Linked DNA regions of Homo sapiens. The protein of the gene in region 1 purifies or fractionates together with the protein of each later gene. This does not show direct contact. Each region holds a gene or a part of one and is shown on either strand. Other genes may lie near its edges. The genes, in order: ETFA, C8orf82 and ABAT.

Region 1 (7,894 bases):
TGGAGTGGGCACCAAGTATGAAGATGTTTGTATTACATGTTAACACCCACCAGAAACCATCCACCATTGAAAAGCCACCATGTAACTAAGAGGACAAAAATATCTGGGCCAGTTGACCTTAGTCGGCCTCTGTCATCAGCCACCTAGTGCTGGTACTAAGGGCACATGCATGAAATGACTACAGTGGCAGAGACAGAGGCAGCAGGAGCCTAATAGCATGGGCTCCCACTTACGAAGCCTGATTGAGCTACTGCCACTGCTGAATGAGCCCCCAATATGGCACCATTCCTCCAGAAGACCAGCTGGCTCCACGGTGCAAGTTGACAACATGGAACCCCTTCTATCTTGGAAAAGGCAAGATTCATCCTAACCACATGGAACCCCTTTCATCTGGAAAAAGTCGAGATTCACCATGTCAAGAAAACGCATATATTCTGGGTACTGTTTACCTTTCCTGTTCTCAGGACCTTAGTCAGCACCACTATTTGAGGGCTTATCGAGTATCTGATTCACTGTCACAGGATCCCACATAACATCCATCAGGCCAGGGACCCAATTTACTGCAATGGAGGTGCAGAAATGAGTCCGTGATCAGAGGATTCCCTAAGCGATTCACAGGCTGGATCATCCAGACACTGCCAGCCTGACAGGATATCGGAATGGCTGCTGAAGGCCCACTGGAAGCAGCAGCTTGGAGACAGCACTTGATAAGGGTGGGGTTCATCTTCTAGGATACTCCTTGAACCAAAGACCTTTATATAGTGCTGGGACCTGCAGGGTTAGAGGTCTTTGTCCCCAAAGGGGAATCTTTCACCAGAGGACACAGCAAGGGTCCTCTGAGCTATAAGCTACAGCTGCCACCTGGGCACCTTGTATGCAGGGACCAGAAGACCAGAAGGGGAGTCATCTTGGCTAAGAGTAACCTACTTGGGTGCCTCTGAGTCCTCCATTGCCCAATTATGACAATAAACAGGCTTGGGAAGGGCATGCTGGTCAGGGGTTGAGATCTTCAGTCCACGAGGCAGGATGGAGGCATTAGCCACTCAAACCAGGGGAGGTGCTAGCTGAGGGAGGGGGAGATTTAGAATGGATACTGAGGAAGGAGACGATAAGTACCATTGTGACCCCCAGAAAGTTGCAGCAGCTAGGGCTGTAGTTGGTCCCAGGGACCTTTCTCTTCTAAGTTTCCAGCAGGAATCCTGGAGGAGCTGCTCCTGAAATTGGCCTGTGGAGAAGAAAGAGGTGTTGCTCCAAATATGCTGGAGTCATCTTCAAGGGTTGACTGTGGTAGTCCTTGAATCCTCCTTCCTCCACCCTCTCTTTTCTGCCCTTTCTTCTTTGGACAAATATTTACTTTCTTTCTTTTTTTTTTTTTTTTTTTTGTTTGAGATGGAGTCTTGCTCTGTCATCCGGGCTGGAGTACAGTGGTGTAATCTTGGCTCACTGCAACCTCTGCCTCCCAGGTTCAAGTGATTCTCATGCCTTAGCTGCAGGGGTAGGTGGTATTATAAGAACATGCTACCACACCCGGCTAATTTTTGTATTTTTAGTAGTGAAGGTGGGGGGAGGGTCTCGCCATGTTGACCAGGCTGGTCTTGAACTCCTGACCTCAAGTGATCCGCCCGCCTCGGCCTCCCAAATTGCTAGGATTACAGGTGTGAGCCATTGCACCTAGCCCATTGGACACATATTTCTACAAATGTTTGCTGAACATCTAAAAATAAGAAGCAAATAAATAGGCTGGACACGGTGGCTCACGCCTGTAATCCCAGCACTTTGGGAGGCCACGGCAGGCAGATCACCTGAGGTCAGGGCTTTGAGACCAGCCTGACCAACATGGTGAAACCCCATCTCTACTAAAAATACAAAAATTAGCTGGGCATGGTGGTGGGCACCTGTAATTCCAGCTACTTGGGAGCCTAAGGCAAGAGAATCCATTGAAACTGAGGGGAGGTGGAGGTTGCAGTGAGCCGAGATCGCGCCACTGCACTCCAGCCTGGGTGACAGAGTGAGACTCCGTCTCCAAAATAAATAAAATAAAAATAAGTAAATAAAAGGAAACCATAGGTCCTGCCACCAAAGCGGCTCCTAATGGAGTGGGAAAGTCATATGCCTCTAGGGAAAATCTTCTAATAGAAATGTCTTAGCACACACATTTCTGTGGTACATAACCTGGTTGTGATTGTAGAACCCTGATACATCCCAAAGCCTCAGGGGGCGTTTCATGTGTGATCAGAACAGGTCTGGTCAGGTGTCACAGACTTTGCCCATTTTTAGCCTCTCCCTCTGCTCTGAACTGCTCCACCAGGAACCCCCAGGGGCAACGAGACTCTGGGGTGAACAGCTGCTGCTGATTTGCCCAAGCCTGGGAGCTGTTGAATCTGCCCAGTGGGGGCAGGGCGGGGCAGCCGCTCTCCCCTTGTATTTCGCTTTGTCATGGGTGGGGAGGTAGGGAAGGAGGTTAGTTTGTATCCCAGTTTTTTATATGGTTTTTAGTAAAATATCCTTTTCTGTTTTTACTAAAAGTACCCTTCCCTCTTCCTTCCACTCCCATAGGTCTCAGATTCTAGTCCAGTGTGGGACTGGTTAGGAGGTAAATGCAGTGAGACATGGAATACTAAATTGCCCCTCCCACAGGCAGATTGACTGGGGGACAGGGGTCCACAGCTCTGTCGGCAACATGAGTTCAGACGTGTTCGAAGTGGGTGCAACTTAAGTTTAAGATGGGTCCTCACCTCCTTGTTCATAGAGCTACAAGAGTGAAGAAGAGGAAAGGATTAATTCATCCTGCAGAATTGAGAAAGAGCTTACAAAAGAAATGTCACTTGGGCCAGGCGTGGTGGCTCATGTCTGTAATCCCAGTACTTTGAGAGGCCAAGGTGGGAAGATCACTTGAGGCCAGGAGTTCGAGACCAGCCCTGGGTAACCCTGCCCCTACAAAAAAAAATAGCTGGGCATGGTGGCACATGACTGTAGTCCCAGCTACTTGGGAGGCTGAGGCAGGAAGATTGCTTGATCCCAGGAGTTCGAGACTGCAGTGAGCTGTGATGGCACCACCGCACTCCAGCCTGGGAAACAGAGTGAGACCTTGTCTTAAACAGAACAAAAGAATTGTCACTTGATCTGGGTTTTAAAGAGGGCTGTCAGATGGGGAAGGGAATTTCAGACAGAGGGAAGAGCAAAAGCGCAAGGCCCTTAGAGTGCTTGTTAGTTCAGACAAAGCTCTTGCTTCAGGGAATTTACACTCCAATGCAGTGAGATCAGCAATAAACAAACATGTGCATCCTGTTAGGCAGTGATAAATGCCAAGAAAAAAAATCAAACAAGGTGATAGGGCGTCTGGGAGTGGCATGGGTGCTATTTTAGGTGGAGAGGCTAAGGCCGGCCTTTCTGCAAATGTGTTTTTTGAGCAGAGACCTGAATGAAGTGAGGAAGTACGCCACGCGGGTAACAAGAGAAGGCCATTTCAGGCAGAGGGAAGAGCCAGAGTGCAAAACTCTGAGAGGAGCAGGCTTGTGTGCTCAAGAAGGCCTATGTATCTGGGGAACAGTGAGAGAAGAGGGCAGTGGGAGGAGAGGGAGCCACCATAGGGCTTTGAGCAGAGGTCATGATCAGTCCATCAGTTTGGAGAAGAGGCTTCTGGAAACATGGGCAGAAACAGAAAGACCAGTTAGGAGGCTTTGCAATGATCCAGGCGAGAGAGGACAGGGTCCTGAGTGAAGGTGATACCAGCAGAGGAGCAAAGGGGTGTTGGAGGATATTGCTGGATTCTGGTTATCTTTTGAAGGTAGAGTCAACGGGATTTGTTGATAGACTAGATAACATTGGAAAGGTAGGTTGTTGCTGAATTGGGAATTGAGACAATTTCTGAACATACCACTTCCCTCTTAAAAATTTCGTGTTAAAGTCCAGACTCATTAGCAGTCATTTATTCATTTGCTTATTCATTCAACACATACTGATTGAATGCCTAGTATGGACCAGGCATTGTGCTAGGTGTTGCAGGTAGACACAAAATTTAAAAGTAGGGCATACTGGCCGGGCGCGGTGGCTCACGCCTGTAATCCCAGCACTTTGGGAGTCCGAGGCGGGCGGATCACGAGGTCAGGAGATCGAGACCATCCTGCCTAACACTGTGAAACCCCGTCTCTACTAAAAATACAAAAAAATTAGCTGGGCGTGGTGGCGGGCGCCTGTAGTCCCAGCTACTCGGGAGGCTGAGGCAGAAGAATGGAGTGAACCCGGGAGGCGGAGCTTTCAGTGAGCTGAGCTCGCGCCACTGCACTCCAGCCAGGGTGACAGAGGGAGACTCTCTCTCTCTCAAAAAAAAAAAAAAAAAAAAGGGCATACTTTCTGCCCTTACAGATCTTCAGTCAGATGGGTGACACAGACAAGTACTTAGGTTATTACAACCCATGTGACAATTGCTACCATGGGGAAATACAGGGGGAAATAGGGGCATATAGGAAAGGTATCTAATTGGAATTGGCAAGGCTCCACTCGTACCTTACCCCGAGGTCAGCTCAGTTTTGAAGTTCACTCTAGCAGTGCTGACCATTGCGGGGCTGTGAGACAGTACAGTCTGAGCTCGGTCATCAGCGGGTGGCCAGCTTTGTCTCTGCCGCTCCGCGGCCCGGGCTTACTCGAAGGTCCCCGGGGAATAGCCTCACCTTTGCCCCACTTCCCAGTCTAGCCCCTAACTTCCCGCCGTCTATTGGCTGCGCAGCCGCCCAATGGGCAGGCGGAAACCGCGGGCTCGTGCTCCCGGCCTAGGGCGTCTTATCTCGTTCGCGCGTCTCGCGAGCATTAGGTGACTGGCTGAGGCGGCGCCAGTTGGCCGGGCACGGGGCTGCTGTAAGGCCGAGGTTGCGGCGGAAGCGGAGACCATGTTCCGAGCGGCGGCTCCGGGGCAGCTCCGGCGGGCGGTGAGTCCGGACTGGGAAGGCGAACCCAGGGACGGCCCCCCGTCAACCCGCCGTCCCTATGGGGTCTTGCAAAGATCACTGGCCCCCTCAGATTCGACCAGCCCTCGCGCCCGCAGGCCGGTCCCCGCCTGGGACTTGGGTCCAAAGTTCTGGGGCCTACCCTGGACTCCCTGCGGAACGCCAGTTCGGGGCAGAAGTCAGAGGTTTGGGGTCAGGGTGACCCCGAATGATGTGAATTTGCGCGTCTGCTGCCCCTTCTTCTGGCCCACTCTCTGCCCTGCCGTTTCCCACCTTTGTCGGTCACTCTGGGCACTTTCGGGCCGCCAGGTCCTCCACACTTGCTCCACACCCGAGGGAGCAAAATGTCACCGGGGAATGCCCTGTTGGGGAAAGTTTCAAACCTAGATTCCTCCCGGAGGCCGGCATTTCTGGAAGAATTAAACACTTTGGGCGCATCGTGGCTACTCCGACCCACTCACTGTCAAGGGCGGGGGTGGGGTGGGGTGGGAGGCTGCGTGGCCAGTTATGGAAGCTGGTTCTGCTTTCTGGTTTATGGAGCAGGGCTGAATTTAGGTGATTGTATTTGTAAAACCTGCGATCCGATTTGACAGCTTTAGCCAGTTTTGAAAGGCAGACGTCTTTTTATATGCTTCAGGCTGACCTGCTTTTAACCAGCAGATTGTAGATTAGGTTAACTGGTGACAGTGGTACATTTTCAGTGTTTCATTAGTGACAAACCACATTTCTCTCTTCTGTTGTGAGAAGGACTGATAGGAAACATATTTTCCTTCTCATGCTGTGGGAAAGGAGTATTTGGAGACTGACCAGTCACAAGTCAAGTAACAATAATTTATATTGTGGATTGTGTAGTTTTCCTAGTTTACATTTAGGTGAAATGAGAAACAAGATTGGTAAACTTGGGTCAGAAACTTACCTGATGGTTTGTACCTTTTCTCCTTTTTTTTTTTTTTTTTTTTTTTCTGGGCATGGATATTTTCCCATCCACTCCTGGGATTTTTCTCTCTGAGGCATAGCTGGAGCTCTTTCTAGATGTCTGTAGACATTAGACTTTTGTTTGTTTGTTTGTTTGTTTGTTTAAGAGACAAGGTCTGGCTCTGTTTCCCATGCTGGAGTGGAGTGCAGTGGCACGATATGGGCTCACTGCAACCGTCGCCTCCCAGGTTCAAGCGATTCTCCCACCTCAGCTTCCCGAGAAGCTGGGATCACAGGTGCGCATCATCACGCCTGGCTAATTTTTTTTTTTTTTTTTTTTTTTTTTTTGTAGAGACGGGGTTTCCCCATGTTACCCAGGCTGGTCTCGAACTCTTGTCCTCAAGTGATCCACCTGCCTCGGCCTCCCAAAGTCCTGGAATTACAGGCCTGAGCTACCGCACCTGGCCTTAGACATCTTTTTTCTTGTGCGTATTCCTTGTTTAATAAAAAGTTCTGACCCTCCCCTCCCCTAAAGAGTTCAAACCCATGTCTTTCAGGTTAGTGTCCTGTCTTCCCCTCAGGACATGTTTTCTCCCGGTTGGGGATCTAGACATAAACAAGTGAAAATCATGAATTTGGGGAAATTCCAGGAACCTGAGCCAGAAGAATGCTGCTCTATGCAGCAGTTGGAAAACAGTTTTGTGGACAGATTACAAGTCTGGCCTAAGTGAAATTATAATTGTGGTGGGGGATGGAATTTAGGACTCAGTAATTTTGTAGAGCTAACAGAAAAAAATGGAATGATTAAGTAATTTTTACTATCCACATCGTTGGCTAATGTGTATAGACATTACTTCCAGATATTCATTGTGGTTTGCCAAAGACTTTGACCTTGACTTATTTTTAAAATTTGAAGTCAAGCTAAGTAGAATAGCTGTTTTTTTTGTTTGTTTGTTTGTTTGTTTTGAGACGGAGTCTCGCTCTGTCGCCCAGGCTGGAGTGCAGTGGCGCGATCTCAGCTCACTGCAAGCTCCGCCTCCCGGGTTCACGCCATTCTCCTGCCTCAGCCTCCTGAGTAGCTGGGACTACAGGTACCCGCCACCACGCCCCGCTAATTTTTTTGTATTTTTAGTAGAGACGGGGGTTTCACTGTGTTAGCCGGTATGGTCTCGATCTCCTGACCTCATGATCCGCCCGCCTTGGCCTCCCAAAGTGCTGGGATTACAGGCGTGAGCCACCGCGCCCAGCCTAGAATAGCTGTTTTAAAGTCATTAAGAATGTTGGAGAGATTTGGATTTCTAGCATAAAAGAAATGGTGGCAACACTTCTAAAGTGGACCCATATATTAATAGGGACATATACCTGTATTTAACTTTTTAAATTTTGAAATAGTTGCACTTATAGAAAAGTTGCAAGAATAGTACAAAGAAATCTCAAAACCCTTCCCCTGGTTTTCCCAGCATGTTAGCAGTTTGACACATTTGCTTTATCTTTCCACATATATACATAATACTATCTTTCTGAACCATTTGAAAGTATGTTGCAAATGTGCCCTTTACTCCTAAATAATTGAGTGATATTTTAAAAGAACAAAGAGGTTCACTTTCTAACTACACTGTAATTGGCAATATCTGGAAGTTTCACCATAAAATACTGTTTTCTAATCTATGGATGTTCAATTTTGCCAGTTGTCCCATTAGTACAGTTTATAGCAATTTTCCTTATTCTGGTCTAAGATACTCTAGATGTCCTGCAAGTGGTTTTCATGTCTCTTTACTCTGTTAGAAAGGTTCCTCAGCCTTCCTTTGGGTTTGATGACATTGGTGTATTTGAAGAGTACAGGCCTTCTATTTTCCAGACTGTCACTCAATTTGGGTTTGTCTGGTGTTTCCTCATGATTAGATTCAGGTCATGTATTCTTGGTGGGAATATCACAAAAGTGGTATTGTGTTCCCCGTGCATCATATTAGCAGGTACTTAATGTTGGTTTATCCCATTAGTGGTAATGCTGACTTTAGTTACTTAGCCAAAGTGTT
Region 2 (7,947 bases), on another chromosome or scaffold:
CATGGAGCCCGCCTAGGCGGGTGGCGGGGTACGCTAGGCTGACCCCGTGTTCTTCTGGGCTGCACCCTCCCCCGGGGGCTCTTCCTGGGCCCGGACCCCCAGCTCAGGAGCAAGGCAGGCAACGGGCTCAGTCACACCGCACCACAGGGACAGGACCCCGTTCCCTGGACCTGTCCCAAGAGCCTGGCCCCTTCCCCACATCCTCTTCTCTCTGATGCGCTGCTCCCATCATACCCCTCCCCAGCGCTCTCAGCCCTGCCACAGACTTCTGGAAGTTTCACCCCAGCTCAGCTAGCTTGGCCTCTGCTGTGCTCCCCAACAGCCCTGGCCGGCCCAGGACTCACTCCCACCTTCCCAAGGGCCCCTGTGAGCTGGTGCTGTAGACGGTGACTCTGGCCAGGGAGCTGGGCTTGTCCGTAGCTCTAGTTGGAGCCAGGAGTTCACAGGGATGAGAGGAGGGGGAGGCAGAGCCAGGGGCAGCCCAGGAGGAGTTAGGGTTTGGGGGGCGAGGAGGGCTGGTCCAGGGATGGACAGTGGCCTGGGGAAACACCACACTCGGACCCAGGTGTGTGGGGCAGGAATTCTGAAGAGCGCCACCCACCTATGTTCGGGGAAAGAAGACAACCGGGGTGGCGGGGGGTCCTGAGGATGGCCAGGCCAGACCAGGACGGAGCCTCTGTCTTCACAGGGGCTGAAGAAGCCCAACGTGGAGGAGATCCGGCATGCCAAGAACGCCGTGTTCAGCCCGTCCATGTTCGGCAGCGCACTGCAGGAGGTCATGGGCATGCAGAGAGAGCGCTACCCCGAGCGCCAGCTGCCCTGGGTGCAGACACGGCTCTCTGAGGAGGTGCTGGCGCTCAACGGTGACCAGACAGAGGGCATCTTCAGGTGCCACGGCAACCCCGGGCGCCGGGTGTGGGGGCCACAGCCATGTGTCCACCATGCATCTGTGGCATGCAGGGGCCATTAAGCCTCAGGCCCACTGGGCTGCTTCCGCACCCATACCTGAGAGCAGATGGAAGGGTGGGGCCACAGTGTGGAAGCTGACCCTGAGGGTGTGCAGGCCAGGAGAGAGGGCAGGACCCATTCCAAAGAGGCAGCACAGCCAGCCAGGGAGGGCGCCCCTGCAGAGACGGCCACCAGGGGTCCAGAGCGTGCTTGGACACCAGCCATGGGTAGCCTGGAGTGGGAGCCTCAGATGACAGGCAGCCCTTGTCTGTGAACAGGGATGGCACAGGGTGCCACCCACTCCCATGACTCACCTGTCAGGGCAAGGGGTACCCAGGCCCCAGGAGGGCAGCTGGGGAAACTGAGGCTTGCAGGTTGAGCCCCAGTGGCCCTTTGGTGAGGGCATCCACCCAGGGAGCCAGCAGGGGTCCAGGGAGGGACGGTGGCCTGGGGAAGCACCACACTCGGACGCAGGTGTGTGGGGCAGGAATCCTGAAGAGCGCCACCCACCCACGTTCGTGGGAAAGAGGCCAACCGGGGTGGCGGGGGGTCCTGAGGTTTTGCTCCCCTCCCCGGGTCAGCAGGGGCCTACCGGAGGGAGTGTCCAGGCGGAATCATGAAGCCGCAGCACAGGCTCCTGTTGCCTGAGACCTGCCCTGTGCCCTGCAGGGTCCCTGGGGACATTGACGAGGTGAATGCCCTGAAGCTGCAGGTGGACCAGTGGAAGGTGCCCACAGGCCTGGAAGACCCCCACGTCCCTGGTGAGTCCCCCACACACGCTGCAGCAGAGCGGGCCTGGCTCAGGCAGTGGTTCTCAGGGGCCCCTGTCTCCGCCTCTGGGGTCCACCCTGATCCTGCCCAGTGATGTGATGGCTTCCCAGTCACTTCTAGCACATCCTCCCTTCTGCCCATTGGACAGTTTCCCCAGGTGTCTGCTGGGCACCCCGAGGCCTACCTGTGCAATGCAGCCCACTCCCCACCTGCTGCTCCCTGCCCTGTGCCCTTCTGCCGTGCCTGCTATGTCTAGCCTACTCCCCACCTGCTGCTCCCTGCCCTGTGCCCTTCTGCCGTGCCTGCTATGTCTAGCCTACTCCCCACCTGCTGCTCCCTGCCCTGTGCCCTTCTGCCGTGCCTGCTATGTCTAGCCCACTCCCCACCTGCTGCTCCCTGCCCTGTGCCCTTCTGCCGTGCCTGCTATGTCTAGCCCACTCCCCACCTGCTGCTCGCTGCCCTGTGCCCTTCTGCCGTGCCTGCTATGTCTAGCCCACTCCCCACCTGCTGCTCCCTGCCCTGTGCCCTTCTGCCGTGCCTGCTATGTCTAGCCCACTCCCCACCTGCTGCTCCCTGCCCTGTGCCCTTCTGCCGTGCCTGCTATGTCTAGCCTACTCCCCACCTGCTGCTCCCTGCCCTGTGCCCTTCTGCCGTGCCTGCTATGTCTAGCCCACTCCCCACCTGCTGCTCCCTGCCCTGTGCCCTTCTGCCGTGCCTGCTATGTCTAGCCCACTCCCCACCTGCTGCTCCCTGCCCTGTGCCCTTCTGCCGTGCCTGCTATGTCTAGCCCACTCCCCACCTGCTGCTCGCTGCCCTGTGCCCTTCTGCCGTGCCTGCTATGTCTAGCCCACTCCCCACCTGCTGCTCCCTGCCCTGTGCCCTTCTGCCGTGCCTGCTATGTCTAGCCCACTCCCCACCTGCTGCTCGCTGCCCTGTGCCCTTCTGCCGTGCCTGCTATGTCTAGCCTACTCCCCACCTGCTGCTCCCTGCCCTGTGCCCTTCTGCCGTGCCTGCTATGTCTAGCCCACTCCCCACCTGCTGCTCGCTGCCCTGTGCCCTTCTGCCGTGCCTGCTATGTCTAGCCCACTCCCCACCTGCTGCTCTCTGCCCTGTGCCCTTCAGCTGTGCCTGCTCTGCAGACACCCCCTCACGGTGGCTACACAGACGACTCCTGAGAAAAATCCTGTTTTGCACAACTCTGCTGGCGTGACCCACATGCCTCCAGGATCGAGTTCAGGCCCCCAGGAGCCGAAAGGCCCTCTGGGGTCAGGGCCCAGCCTGGCCAGATGGGCCCTGTCCAGAATGAGCCGGCCCTCCCAGCCTGTCCCCCACAGCACCCCTCCATGCATGTCCGCCACGGGACCCCATTTGGCCCAGGGGTGCCCGCCGAGCAGGGCCGCTGAGCCCCGTGCTGTGTCCCCAGCGTCCCTGCTGAAGCTGTGGTACCGGGAGCTGGAGGAGCCCCTGATCCCGCACGAGTTCTACGAGCAGTGCATCGCGCACTACGACAGCCCCGAGGCGGCGGTGGCCGTGGTGCACGCGCTGCCCCGCATCAACCGCATGGTGCTGTGCTACCTCATCCGCTTCCTGCAGGTACTTCCCTCCCCGGGGGTCCCCGCTGCTTTCCCCTCCCCGCCCCGCCCCCGCCCCTCCGCGCCCACCCTCGCTCCTCCACCAGGTCTTCGTGCAGCCGGCCAACGTCGCGGTCACCAAGATGGATGTCAGCAACCTGGCCATGGTGATGGCGCCCAACTGCTTGCGCTGCCAGTCCGACGACCCGCGCGTCATCTTCGAGAACACCCGCAAGGAGATGTCCTTCCTGCGGGTGCTCATCCAGCACCTGGACACCAGCTTCATGGAGGGTGTGCTGTAGCGGGGGCGCCCGGGGACAGGAGGGATGTCCTGCCGCCCCCAGCCAGGCCGAACTCCGCACTCGCTCTCCCGGCAGAGGGGCCAGAATCGCCCGGCCCAGCCCTGGAGCCCCCTCCACTCCCCCAGGCCCCTGGCCCCGGCGCTCCCCACGTCTTCTGCCTGGTCTGAGGGTGCAGCCAGGGCACAGCAGCGGCGGGGAGGGCGCCTCTGGCCCCCCACCTCACGGCCAGTTCCCGCGGGCACCGCCTCGCCCTCCGCTGGCCGCGGGTCAGCTCCGAGAAAGTGCCTTCTGTGTCCTGGAGCCGAGCGACGCTGCCTCCTTGGGGCCGGGCTGCCTCCCTGTGGCTCCTGCGCGCCCTGGCCTGGGCCTTGCCCAGCCGCCCCGGTCTCTCCTTCCCTTTCTCCTGTCCTCGTCCTGGCCTGCAGCTCTTCCCAGCCCCGAGAGAGCTTCCCGACCTGTCCCCGCCTCCTCTCCCTCCCTCGGCCCGTGGTCCCCAGCTGGTGACTGCTCAGGAGTTTGGGGGCTCCAGGACAGTGGGCCCGGGGCCTGGCAGGCTCTCGGTGGGTGGGGTGGGGGCCCCCAAACCAAAGTCCTCTGGGGTAGGGAGCAGGGCTGGGCAGGCATTCTGGGGGCAGGGTGGGGGAGGGGCGAGAGTATTTTTTTCTTCGTGTAACTGTAAATCCAGAATCTATCCTGCATCGCAGCCCACCGTGTATAGAGATATAAATAGAGGGAAAGATATAAGAACTAAATTTGCTAATGACATAGTTTTAACCTAAATGCTATTTATCTCTGAGCCGTCCCCGTCCTCCGTGCAGAGCAAGTTGAGGTCATTCCTTCTTTTCTTCTCCGATCTTTTTTCTTGGCTTCTGACCAAAAACCAAGCTCTACCCCATCCCCATCCCAGACCTGCAGGAGACGAGCGAGCGGGAAGGCGCCGGGCCCGGGACTGTCCGTTCTCGGGGCCAGAGCTGCTGGGGGACCGAGTTTGTACATTTTCCATTTTGGAATTTTGAGTTCCAATTGTTGTAAAACTTAATTTCTCCCCAGTTTTTATATATATATTTTTTAGAGTTCCGTTTTTATTTATTAAAAACAAAAGCCCCAGCCCTGCCGAGGCCTGGGCGGCGTCCTCAGTCGGGTGGTCCCGGGGCCTTTGCGGTCCCGCCCGGCTGAGACGCTCGCCCCGACGCATGGACCCGAGAGGCGACGACACGAGTGAATAAAGTGCACATGGACCCTGCGCGTCCTCCCGTTCCTTGTGGGCGCGGCCGGGGGCGGGAAGAGACGCGGGGCGGACCGGAAGGGGCGTCACCGGCACACGCCTCTCGGAAGGCCAGGGCGGGCGAGCCCCCGAGGCCCGAGGGAGAGGGAAGAGCGCCGGGCCCGGGTCGCGGAGGCGGGCGCCGCCGGAACGCGAAGCGCGGGGCTACTGCGGGCAGGCGCGAGTTCGCGCAGCACCGCCCCCGGCGTGACCTGCTGGTCGCTTCCGGCGCGGGAGGAGAATGTGGCCGCCTTGCGGGACGCTCCGGACCCTGGCCTTGGCGCGGTCGCGGGGAGCCCGGGCCTGCAGCGGGGATGGGGGCGTTTCCTACACGCAGGGCCAGAGTCCGGAGCCGCGGACCCGCGAGTATTTCTACTACGTGGACCACCAGGGCCAGGTGGGCGGGGGCAGGGCCGTTGCTCGAGAGGCGGGGCCGGGAGAGGTCTCTGGGCGGGGCGGGGGGGGGGGCGTGGCTCTGTGGGCGGGACCATTGCTCGAGGGGCGGGGCCGGAGGGACGTTCCAGGGGGTGGGTGGGTGGGCGGGGCCTGCGCGGTGGGCAACCTCGACTCCTCAGAGCTGGAGGAGAGCGCGCTGGAAAGACGGGGAGTTGGGTCGGTCCGGGCCGAGGCTCCTACATGGGCCGCGTCCCTGCTGCGTTGTGCAGCTTCGGACTCTGTCCTACAAGTCCCCAGCCCCGGCGCTGACTTCTCGCCGCTGCCAGGGAGACACCCGGGCCGCCCTGCCTTTTTTTGGAAGCCCTGTCAAAAGGCAGCTGCATGTCCGGGAGGCAGCAGGCCAGGTAGTCTCCGCGGAGGAGGTGGTACAACTGATTACAAACTTGAAAAGAGGGAAAAGGTGCGGGAAAGAATTGGCTGACCAGGGAGCAGAGGTGCGCATAGACGCGGATAAGTCGGCGGGGCCCCCAGGTTTACCTTTCACGCGCCTCCCTGCATGCGGTGTGCACAGACAAGCAGGAAAAGTGGGCTCGGGCCGGTTCAGGACCTCCCGAGCTTCAGGACCTCCTGAGCTTCCCCGCCCCCACCTGCACGCTGGGACTTATCACGGCCTGGCCCTCTATCTGCAGCTTTTCCTGGATGATTCCAAAATGAAGAATTTCATCACCTGCTTCAAAGGTAATGCTGTGCCTCCCTCTCCAGCCCCTTCTTTCTCCCTTCCGGGCAGCCCCTGATGGGCTCCCCGACTCTGCCGACGGGCCCAGCGCACCAAGGAGTGGGCGTCCTGCGCTCAGGAGCCCCGCTGAGTGAGGCCAGGCGAACCTCTTACCGTCGGCGCCTGCCCTCGGTATGGTCCTGGGCCCGGAGGCCTTGGGAGCCCAGCGCGCTGAGTACACGCACCCTTCATCCCCCAGACCCGCAGTTCCTGGTCACCTTCTTCTCCCGCCTGAGACCCAACCGCAGCGGGCGCTACGAGGCCGCTTTCCCCTTCCTCTCGCCCTGCGGCAGAGAGCGCAACTTCCTGCGCTGCGAGGACCGGCCGGTGGTCTTCACGCACCTGCTGACCGCGGACCACGGGCCTCCGCGCCTCTCCTACTGCGGCGGTGGCGAGGCCCTGGCCGTGCCCTTCGAGCCGGCGCGCCTGCTGCCCCTGGCCGCCAACGGGCGCCTGTACCACCCGGCGCCGGAGCGTGCGGGCGGCGTGGGCCTGGTGCGCTCCGCCCTGGCCTTCGAGCTCAGCGCCTGCTTCGAGTACGGGCCCGGCGCGCCTGCGCTGCCCTCGCACGTGCGCTGGCAGGGCCGCCGCCTCGCCCTCACCATGGACCTGGCCCCGCTGCTGCTCGCGGCTCGGTCGCCCTGAGCGGGGCCAAGGGAAAGGCGGGAGGCCGCGGGCGCCTCTCGCCCCGCTCCCCCGGGACTCCACGCCCCGGAAAGCCCGCGCCACCCGCGCTCGCGGCAGCCTAGTGCGCCTGCGCGCTCGGCCCCGCCCCCACCCGGCGCTGTCCTTGGTGCTGCCGCGGCCCGGCCCTCCCGGACACCCCGCTCCCCACGGCGCGCGCCCCCCGCGCACCCGACTCCGGCGCCCTCCGGATTGGCCTGCGCTCGAGACGTCAGGCACTGGCGGCGGGCGCGGGGCTCTGGTGCGCGTGCGCGAGCGTCCCCCGCCCCCTCCCAGCCCGGCGACTGCTCGGGCCCGGCCGCCACCTGCACGGCGGGGGAGCCGCTCGCCGCGGGAGCGTCAGGTGAGGGGACGCCCGACCCAAGGTCACCAGGCGTGGGGGCGCTGGGGGATCGGGGACCATCCCGGCTCTGACCCTGGTGCGCTCCGAGAAGGGCGTGGGTCCTGGAGGGGGATGGGGAACGCGGAGGCCACGCCCTCCCTGAGCCCGGCCGAAAATCAACCGGCTCTCGTGGGTAGCAGAGGAGGCCGTGGGGGATACAGGCACCAGGTCGCAGCGCTGCAGAGGTGCGCAAGGGCCGCCCAAAGACCAGCTTGGGCCTCGCACTGCGCCCGAGGCAGACACAGGGCGTTCCATCCTCTTCCCTCCCCGCTCCCGCACAGAGGGGCGCCCAGGAGGCAGTGACAGTCGTCGCGGAATCCTGCGTGTGACACCCCGCCCCTGCCCAGCGGATTAGGGAGTTGTCCTCTGGTAAAAGGATTTCTGGGCTGCTTCCAGCTTGGGGCCCTCATCCCTGCCCTGGCAGGCCTTTCTACACCGATCTGCATCTAGTGGGGGGTCAGCGTGAGCAGCAGCGCCGTGAGTTCTGAGGCCAAGAACCTTCTCCACTTGAGAAGCCTTCCTGGGGGAGGCTGAGTGGGCCAGGCCTGGAGCCACGTACCAACACTTTATACCCAGGGGAATGGATCCCAAGGGCCCAGATAACGCCCCCAACTTCTTGGGGTTCACACGCGTCCTGAGACATCTGGGAACTGCCTCTGCCTGGGCCAAAGCTATTCCATTAAAACTTTATTGCTGTGCTTACTTATTTCTAGTGACTTTAAATAATCATGTGAGTTACAATTTAGGGCAAGATTTAAACACCAAGGCCACTTGGTCCTGTCCCTTTCCACATGACTCGAAAGGAGGAAGAGCTGATGGACAGGCAAATGTTTGGGGAGGCCGGCCAGATGAGG
Region 3 (7,835 bases), on another chromosome or scaffold:
TTACAGGTGTGAGCCATTGCACCTGTTCCCCCTTCCCATGTTTTCTTCTAAGAATTTTATAGTGTTAGGTCTTATATTTATTTAGGTCTTTGATCCAATGTTGAGTTAGTTTTTTTATATGGTGTGAGGTAAGCGTCTATCTTCTTTCTTTTACATGTGAAAACGTGGTAGATACTTTATTCAATTTACAGATTAGAACATAGAGACTGAGAGGGAGTAAATGACATGTCCAGAGTCACATAGCCATTGGGAGTTGGAACTAGAATTCAATATTAGGTCTGACTCCCAAGTTGATCCCCTTTCCACCACATCAAAATGCCCTTTATTATTTTGTATAGATGATATCTCTTTATTATTTTGTGACCAGGGATGTGGAAATCACAGGCCTAGTCAATAAAATATGTGCTTTAATCTGGCTCTGGACAAGTTATTCCTCCTCTCTGGGCCTCAGTCTCCTCTTCTGTACAATGGGCTGCTGATCTCTAAGAGTCTCTCCTGTGGAGACAACTGGTACCCTTGGAGCCTCATTCACCCTTGCCTTTGTTTTCATTTCTCCTCTCCAGAGTGCAGTGGGGGCCCTCCCAGCTACAGCTGCGCTTCTGGAAGGAGCTTATTGATAGGCACAGAGTATGGGTGAGTCTTCATCCCAGGCCTCAGCCAAACTCTGGGAAACACTCTGCATTCCCTGGCAGACAGCTGCAACCCCAAGCAGCTCCATAGGAAAACTGCAGAATGGCAGAAAATGCAAGGGAAGCCAATATGGAAAGGGCTTTTTCCACATGCTGACAGTTTTCTTCACAAGTATCACAATGAAGCTATTTGAGAATCAGCTTGCAAAGCACCTGGCTCTAAATAGCCTTCTCTCCCTAGTCCTTAAGTAGAGACAAAGCAGCTCCTTTTATCCTCTAGAAGTGCCCTTTCCTAGGGCCTGACCCACAAATGGGTGCTCAAAACCTAGTTGAATGAATGAATGAACAGATGAATGAAGATGGCTACACACACTTCTTATTTCCCTTGATTGCCTTAGACCAGGACACGGCAGATTTTTCGCAAAGGGCTGGAAGGTAAATATTGTTGTCTTTTCAGGTCACAGAGTCTCTGTCACAGCTACTCAGCTCTGCTGTTGTAGCTCACAGACAGCCATAGACAATGCATAAATAAATAGGCCTGGCTGTGTTCCCATAAAATTTTATTTATGCACAGTAAAATTTGAATTTTATGTAGTTTCTATGTGTCACATAACATTATTCTTCTTGTGAATTTTTTTAACCATTTAATATGTAAAACCAATCTTAGCTCATGGTCATAGGAAAACATGATGAACTACATTTGGTCTATGAGCTATAGTTTGTCAACCTTTGGCTTAGACTCTTTTTTAAAAAAAAATTATTTATAAATAGAGATGGGGTTTCGCCATGTTGGCCAGGCTGGTCTCGAACCCCTGGCCTCAAGTGATCTGCCCGCCTCAGCCTCCCAGAATACTGGGATTACAGGTGTGAGCCACCACTCCGGGCCCTTTGGTTTAGACTTTTCCTTTCTGTTTTTCATTTTAAATATTTTCTTCTTAGTACCAGAGTAATATATATTCATTACAGAATAATTAGAAATTAGTGACATTGTAAAGTTTATCCTCTATTAAAAATAAACCCAAGGGGATAAAAAGAAATTACTGACATGGACATGCAAATAAAGTAATATTAGAATAATCTATAATTTCAATACACAAAAATAACCATTCTCCTACTGAACACAGTTTTTCACTCAGCATTGCTAGCTAGCTATATCGGTGCCTTTTAATATGATAGCCACTAGCTACCTGTTACTGTTACACCTTAAATTAAAATTAGATACAGGCTGGGCGTGGTGGTTCACACCTGTAATCCCAGCACTTTGGGAGGCTGAGGCAGGCAGATCACTGGAGGCCAGGAGTTTGAGACCAGCCTGGCCAACATGACGAAACCCTGTCTCTACTAAAAATTAAAAAATTAAACAACGAGCCAGGCGTGGTGGAGCACGCTTGTAATCCCAACTACTCAGGAGGCTTAGGCAGGAGAACCGCTTGAACCTGGGAGGCAGAGGTTGCAGCGAGCTGAGATCACACCACTGCACTCCAGCCTGGGTGACAGAGCGAGACTCCGTCTCTAAAAAAATAAATAAATAGATACAATTAAAATACAGTTATTCGGTTAACTAGTCATTGCTTTTTCCAAAATTTTAAATTTATTTTTCCCTTTTCCTTTTTTTATTATTTCTTTCTTTCTTTTTTTTTTTTAAACATCTTGGATACCAAAATTAGTCATTTCAGGTGTTCAATACCTCCATGTGGCTAGTGGCTACCACACGGGACGGCACAGATATAGAGCATCATAGAAAGTTATATTACACAGCATTGATCTAGCTCTACCTGGTAGATTTAACAAAAAGTAAGATGTTTAACAAAAAGTAAGACAGTACCAAATATACTGTTTTTGCAAATAACTTAACATTTTGAGATTTGTTTTGTTTTGTTTTTGAGACAGGGTCTCACTCTGTCACCCAGCTGGAGTACAGTGGTGTAATCTTGGCCCACAGCAGCCTCAACCTCCCAGGCTCAAGGCTGCCTCAGTCTCCTGAGTAGCTGGGACTACATGCATGCGCCACATCGCCCGGATAATTTTTGTATTTTTTGTAGAGACAGGGTTTCACTATGTTACCCAGGCTGGTCTTGAACTCCTTGGCTCAAGCGATCCTCTTGCCTTGGCTTCCCAAAGTGCTGGAATTACAGGCGTGTCACCACACCCAGCCCCATTCAATATTTCATACCTATGTTTATTGTTCAATTTCATGCAACAATTTCCCTCTGAGTCCCTGCTGTTGTGCATTCAAGTTGTTCCCAGTTTTTCCCTGTGATAAACAAAATGGTAGTAAGCTACTTTATCATTAAATCTTTGTACCTTTAAATGTTTTCAGATAAGTTCATAGGGATTGGATTGCTAGATCAAAGGGTCAACTTACTTTTAAGATTTTTAAAATAGAAATACCCAATTTCCCTCCAGAAAGGCTGTGATCTTTCTACTGCCATCATCAATACATGAAACTCCTTGAAGTCTTTGCAAAGAATAGTAATTATAATAATAAAAACAAGGTCATTTTGGTAGGTAAACTCTTTCCCTCTTTTGGTTTTAACTTGCCTTTCCTTTTCAAAGTGTCATCTCCCATGTTTATTGGCCGTTGTATTTCTTTGGGCAGGTCAAGGGTAGTAAAGGGGATTATGTTCATGGCTTTGGTTTTAAGAAAAAATTGCTAGATTTTCAGCACAGGCCTCATCAAGTTCCTCAAGCAAGGTGACAATCACCCAGGCTAGAGTGCAGTGGTGCCATCTCACCTCAGTGCAACCACTGCCTCTCCATTCAAGCGATTCTCATGTCTCAGCCTCCCAGGTAGCTGGGATTACAGGCAGGTGCCACCATGCCAGGCTAATTTTTGTATTTTTAATAGAAAGGGGGTTTCCCCATGATGGCCAGGCTGGTCTCGAGCTCTGGGCATCAAGTGATCTGCCTGCCTCGGCCTCCCAAAGTGCTGGAATTACAGGCGTAAGCCACTGTGCCAGGCCTCAATTATTCTTATTTACTGCTCTGTGTGTGTGTGTGTGTGTGTGTGTGTGTGTGTGTGTGTGTGTTGGGGGGGAGGGTCCCCAGAGGTGACACTAGGAGGTGAATGATTTGTTTGGCAGCTTTCTATTTATCTATGTGTTTACTTTATCTTAATTCTTTAATTGCAAGGACTATAGCGCTTGTGTAATCAGAGATAGGGCAGCCTGGATTCCTGGACAGCAGGAGGAGAGACCTCAGGGTTCTACAAGACTCCACAGACCAAGTTATCAGTGATCAGGGTGAGTGGGGAGAACCAAGCTGAACTCTTTCTCTGCCTTTAAGGTCTGTACTCTCCATCCATCCATTCATTCATTATGAGGACTTGGTGATCGCCTGTTGTCTTGATGAGCAGTTCTTTGTGTCTTTGATTTTGTCACTGAAAGATTGCATCCTCTTTCCAAATACCTCTAGAAAGCTGTGGGGGGGCTATCCATCCGTCACACCTGAGTATTAATTATCTTCCACACAGCATTTTATACAACGGTAGAAAGGCACCTTCATCATATCTAGGGTCTCGTTTATACCCACGAAGGAGGTACAATCTCTGTTGTCCCAATTTCAGGAAATTGAGGATCAGGAGGCGCAGTGACCTGCTCCAGGTCATGCAGAAGGAACCACCTCTGACTCCCAGCGCCCTGTTTGTCTTCCGGAGCGCTGGGGCCAGGCGGAGGAAAGTAGCTGGGAGCAAGAAGGGCTGGCAGGGCCCTGAGCGCCGAGATGGGGAGTGAGGTGGGGAGGGCGGGATGCTCCTTCCCTTCTCCGCAAAGGAACCCCTTCTGATTCCGACTCTGGAGCTCCAGAGACCGGATCCGAGACGCGGGTGGAGGTGGAGTTACACTCGCCTGCAGCCCTGAGGGTGTAAATGGCCCATTAAGATCCAGGTTAAATCAACCTATGGAGCTGCCCCCCAGAGGGTCAGGGTCCCCACAACTTGACGGGGGTCCTCAGCCGTCTCCTCCCCAGTCCCAGGACTCCCTCCCAGCCCTCGCGGTCCCTCTGGTGGGTCCCGCCCCAGCCCCCGTCTCCCCCGCCCCCGGAGGCTGGACTCTGCCCCCGCCCCGCCTGCCACCTCCCTCCTGGGGGCGGTGGCCCGTGGCGGGCGCACCCATTGGCTGTGGCGAAAGCGAGGGCCGGGGCTGGCGGCGCTGATTGGCCGGGACGCTCGGCGGAGCCAGGGAGTCCGGCGAGTCGCTGGGGGAAGTCGAGCAGACACCCAGCGCTGCCGGAACTCGGGGCGCGCATCCCGCAAGTCGGAACCCGGCGGATCGGATCCCGCAGATCGGAGACGGGGCCTGGAGGTGAGCGCGAGGCGCCGGGTGGCTTGGGACGGGCCCTTCCGAGGGGAGCCGAGAGGAGGTCCTTCTGCCCTGCCCCCAGGAGCAAAACCTGGGCATCTTCTCCTGGAAACGGAGCCCTCATCTTCCCAAGACGCGGGGCCCTCCCCCGAAAAGACAGGGGCTCCCACCCCCCAGAGAGCAAAATACCTTCCTTTCTCCTTCAGAAATGGGCCCTTCCTCCTGGCTCCAGCTCTAGACAGAAGTCCTCTCCCTTTTACCGCTTGAAATAGAATGCGGCCCCAAAAAGTGGTCTCCAGGTCTCTAGAGCCCCCTCACCTCTTGGGAGACTGATGCCCCTTCCCCATCCTTAGAAAACTAAGTTTGGGTGTCTTCCTTCTCCCCTCTCTTTCGGAATAATGGGGGTCTTCTCAGCTTATAAATTACAGTGACCTCCCCCTCCATGACAAATGGAAGCTCTCCCCCCATCATAAGACAAGGAAATCCCGGAGCAGAGACTCTGCAAGTCACCCTCCCACCCCAGATACTGGGCTCTGGAGAGATAGATGATTCACCCTTAGCCCTGCCGGAGACCCCTCCCTACCCGTCAGAGAGGCAGGGTGGCCTCTGACACCACCACATTAAAGGCTTTTGGGGATTTCCCCTCTCCTCCCCAGTAAAGATGTAAAATGAGGGACCTTCATACTCAGGAGCAGGGCAAAGGTCTGGCCACCCCTCCAAGTCATCCACCTCCCTCCACTCCACCCAAGCCCTTTCACACAAACCCCATCCTAGTAACCCCCTGCACCATCCTCCCACCGCTCCCAATCCCATCCTTCTCCACCTCACCCCAACTCCACTCCCACACCTGGCTGCCCCACCTATTTCACATCCTCTCACCTTTCCTCACCCACCCTGGCCAAGGTAAGACTAGAGGGGGTTCAGCGAGATTTAGTAAGACTGGAGCTCTTAAAACTGGGATCTGGGGCCTAGAGGCCCTTCCAGGAGTCTTCAAACTCTGACAACAGAGATGGCCTCTGAGGCAGCAGGACCAGCAGAGACCACCCGCCACCTCTCCCCCGCTCCCTGCCCCAACACACGCACAAAGGCTGTGTTCAATGCATTCTCTCTTGCAGTCTGGGAGGACAGCTGGCCCTCTTCCAAGAGGGCCCGCATTTCCCCCCTAAAGTGTGCACCCCCGCAAGCGCCTGTGGACATTGCCTGGTGGAATTCCCTGGGCACTCAGCCAAGAGAAATGGGTGCTGCTGGGCCCATCCACTGGGGAGGAGACAGTGTTGGCTTTGCTGCTTTGATGAAGCTAGACTAAGGGACAGGATGTTGGTGACCTGGGGGTGGGGAGGGGGTGGGAAGAGCTCTTCTCTGGTGGGTCAGGTTGGGAGGCAGGAGAGAGGGAGGCAGTGAGTTGTGTCTTGCTCTTTGGAGCCTGTGTTGCGGCGTGGAGTCATAGAGAAATGTGTTTTCTCGAGGCCCAAAGAGGTTAGCCACGGGGAGAGGTAAATGGTCCAGTCTGGAGTCCTAAGACCTAAAAGGGCTTCTGCATTAAAGACGTGGCCCCTTCATTTGACAGTTAAACACACAGAGGCACAAAAGGGGAAGAGACTTGCTCAAGGTCACCCAGCCTGTGGGAGACAGCTGGCCCCAACCCCTCCAGGACCCTTAAGGTGCTAGGATCCCTGACACAAGCCCCAGTCCTCACATTTACAATGGGGACTTGGGGACTGCTGGGTCCCAAGTCCCCACTTGTCAGAGGAAGCGCCAAGGCTCTGCAAAGGTCATGAAGCCAGGAAGGGGCAGAGCTGGAACTCAATGCCATCCCCCAGCAGGCTGCCTCGTGGAATCCATTCCTGGGTGTCAGCGCATCCCTGCTTACCCCGTGCGATCTTTGTGTTGAGGCCATTGCCAAATCTAGGCTTGCCAAAATCCAAACTGACCCAGGATAGCTAATAAGATCAGTTGCAGCTAATGAGAATGAGATGCTGGAGTGGAGGCTACTGCAGGAACCTCACTTGCATAGCTGGGTTTGCTCCAAGAACTTTGGACAGGTCCTGAGGATGTCATATTCCTTCCCTCCAAGGTCCCCTCCCTCTTAGCCCCTGCCCACGCCCTCTGGCTTTGAGTTCCCTGCACATTGTCTCATCTCTGTTCAGAGGCCTGCGTCTTTTCTCCTGGGGCATTGCATGGGAAAAGAGCTGAAATTCTGGCAGATTCTCTAGGACCACCCAGCTGGGCAGCATGGTCTGAAGTAGAGGCTCTCTCTGTTTCTGCCCCCACCCAGTTCCCAGCTAAAGGATTGGTTGTTGTGCCCCAACTTTGCCAAGGCGAAGTTCAAAGCATGAGGAGGACCACGGTAGAGAGGCCGAGAGGTTGGTCCCTGGAGACCTCTTATCTGGGTCGAGAGCACAAATCTGCCACTTAGTGTCTGATCTTAACCTCTCTGTGACATATCCTTGGGGTAAAATGAGTTAATCCTCATAAAATGTTTAGCACACAGCAAAATGAGCAGAAACAATGATTACAAGTGCAAAGTCATAAAACCTCTAATCATGAAGTGGGGAGGTGCTTATGCCTTAAGGCAAAACTTGTAACCCTTGCCGTAGATAATCTGCCAGGGCCAAGGTGCCTGGGGACAAGGGGATGTCTTCCTAGAGAGACAGTGTAGTATGTGGAATGGACCACAGACCCTGAAGCCAGATGGAGTAGAGAGTTGGCCACTGGTAGTGGCTGTCTATGGAAACTTAGGCAAGTCATTCATGTCTCTGAACCTCAGTTCCTCGTCTTTGAATGAGGTTTGTTGGGGTTGGACATCAGAAAAGAGACAGGTCTAGATGAGGGGTTCTCATTTTGGGCACTGTTGACAGTTGGGTCAGAGGATTCTTTGTTGTGGGACTCCCCTGTGTATTGTAGGATA

The links.
Region 2: the proteins of ETFA (region 1) and C8orf82 purify together in Homo sapiens (affinity purification with mass spectrometry; 3 studies listed by BioGRID and IntAct, with this or other methods). This does not show direct contact.
Region 3: the proteins of ETFA (region 1) and ABAT fractionate together in Homo sapiens (co-fractionation; 2 studies listed by BioGRID). This does not show direct contact.

Annotation. Positions count from the first base shown.
Region 1 is NC_000015.10:76,308,381-76,316,274, reverse strand, and holds the start of ETFA (electron transfer flavoprotein subunit alpha, mitochondrial), read left to right. Parts: upstream 1-4,805; 5' UTR 4,806-4,886; coding exon 4,887-4,925; intron 4,926-7,894. UniProt on the Homo sapiens protein: Heterodimeric electron transfer flavoprotein that accepts electrons from several mitochondrial dehydrogenases, including acyl-CoA dehydrogenases, glutaryl-CoA and sarcosine dehydrogenase.
Region 2 is NC_000008.11:144,526,067-144,534,013, reverse strand, and holds the start of C8orf82 (UPF0598 protein C8orf82), read left to right. Parts: upstream 1-4,902; 5' UTR 4,903-5,097; coding exon 5,098-5,253; intron 5,254-5,941; coding exon 5,942-5,990; intron 5,991-6,226; coding exon 6,227-6,672; 3' UTR 6,673-7,947. Other genes in the region: ARHGAP39 (rho GTPase-activating protein 39), read left to right, coding at 689-888, 1,618-1,709, 3,143-3,312, 3,398-3,592.
Region 3 is NC_000016.10:8,669,782-8,677,616, forward strand, and holds the start of ABAT (4-aminobutyrate aminotransferase, mitochondrial isoform 1 precursor), read left to right. Parts: upstream 1-4,835; 5' UTR 4,836-4,930; intron 4,931-7,835. UniProt on the Homo sapiens protein: Catalyzes the conversion of gamma-aminobutyrate and L-beta-aminoisobutyrate to succinate semialdehyde and methylmalonate semialdehyde, respectively. Can also convert delta-aminovalerate and beta-alanine.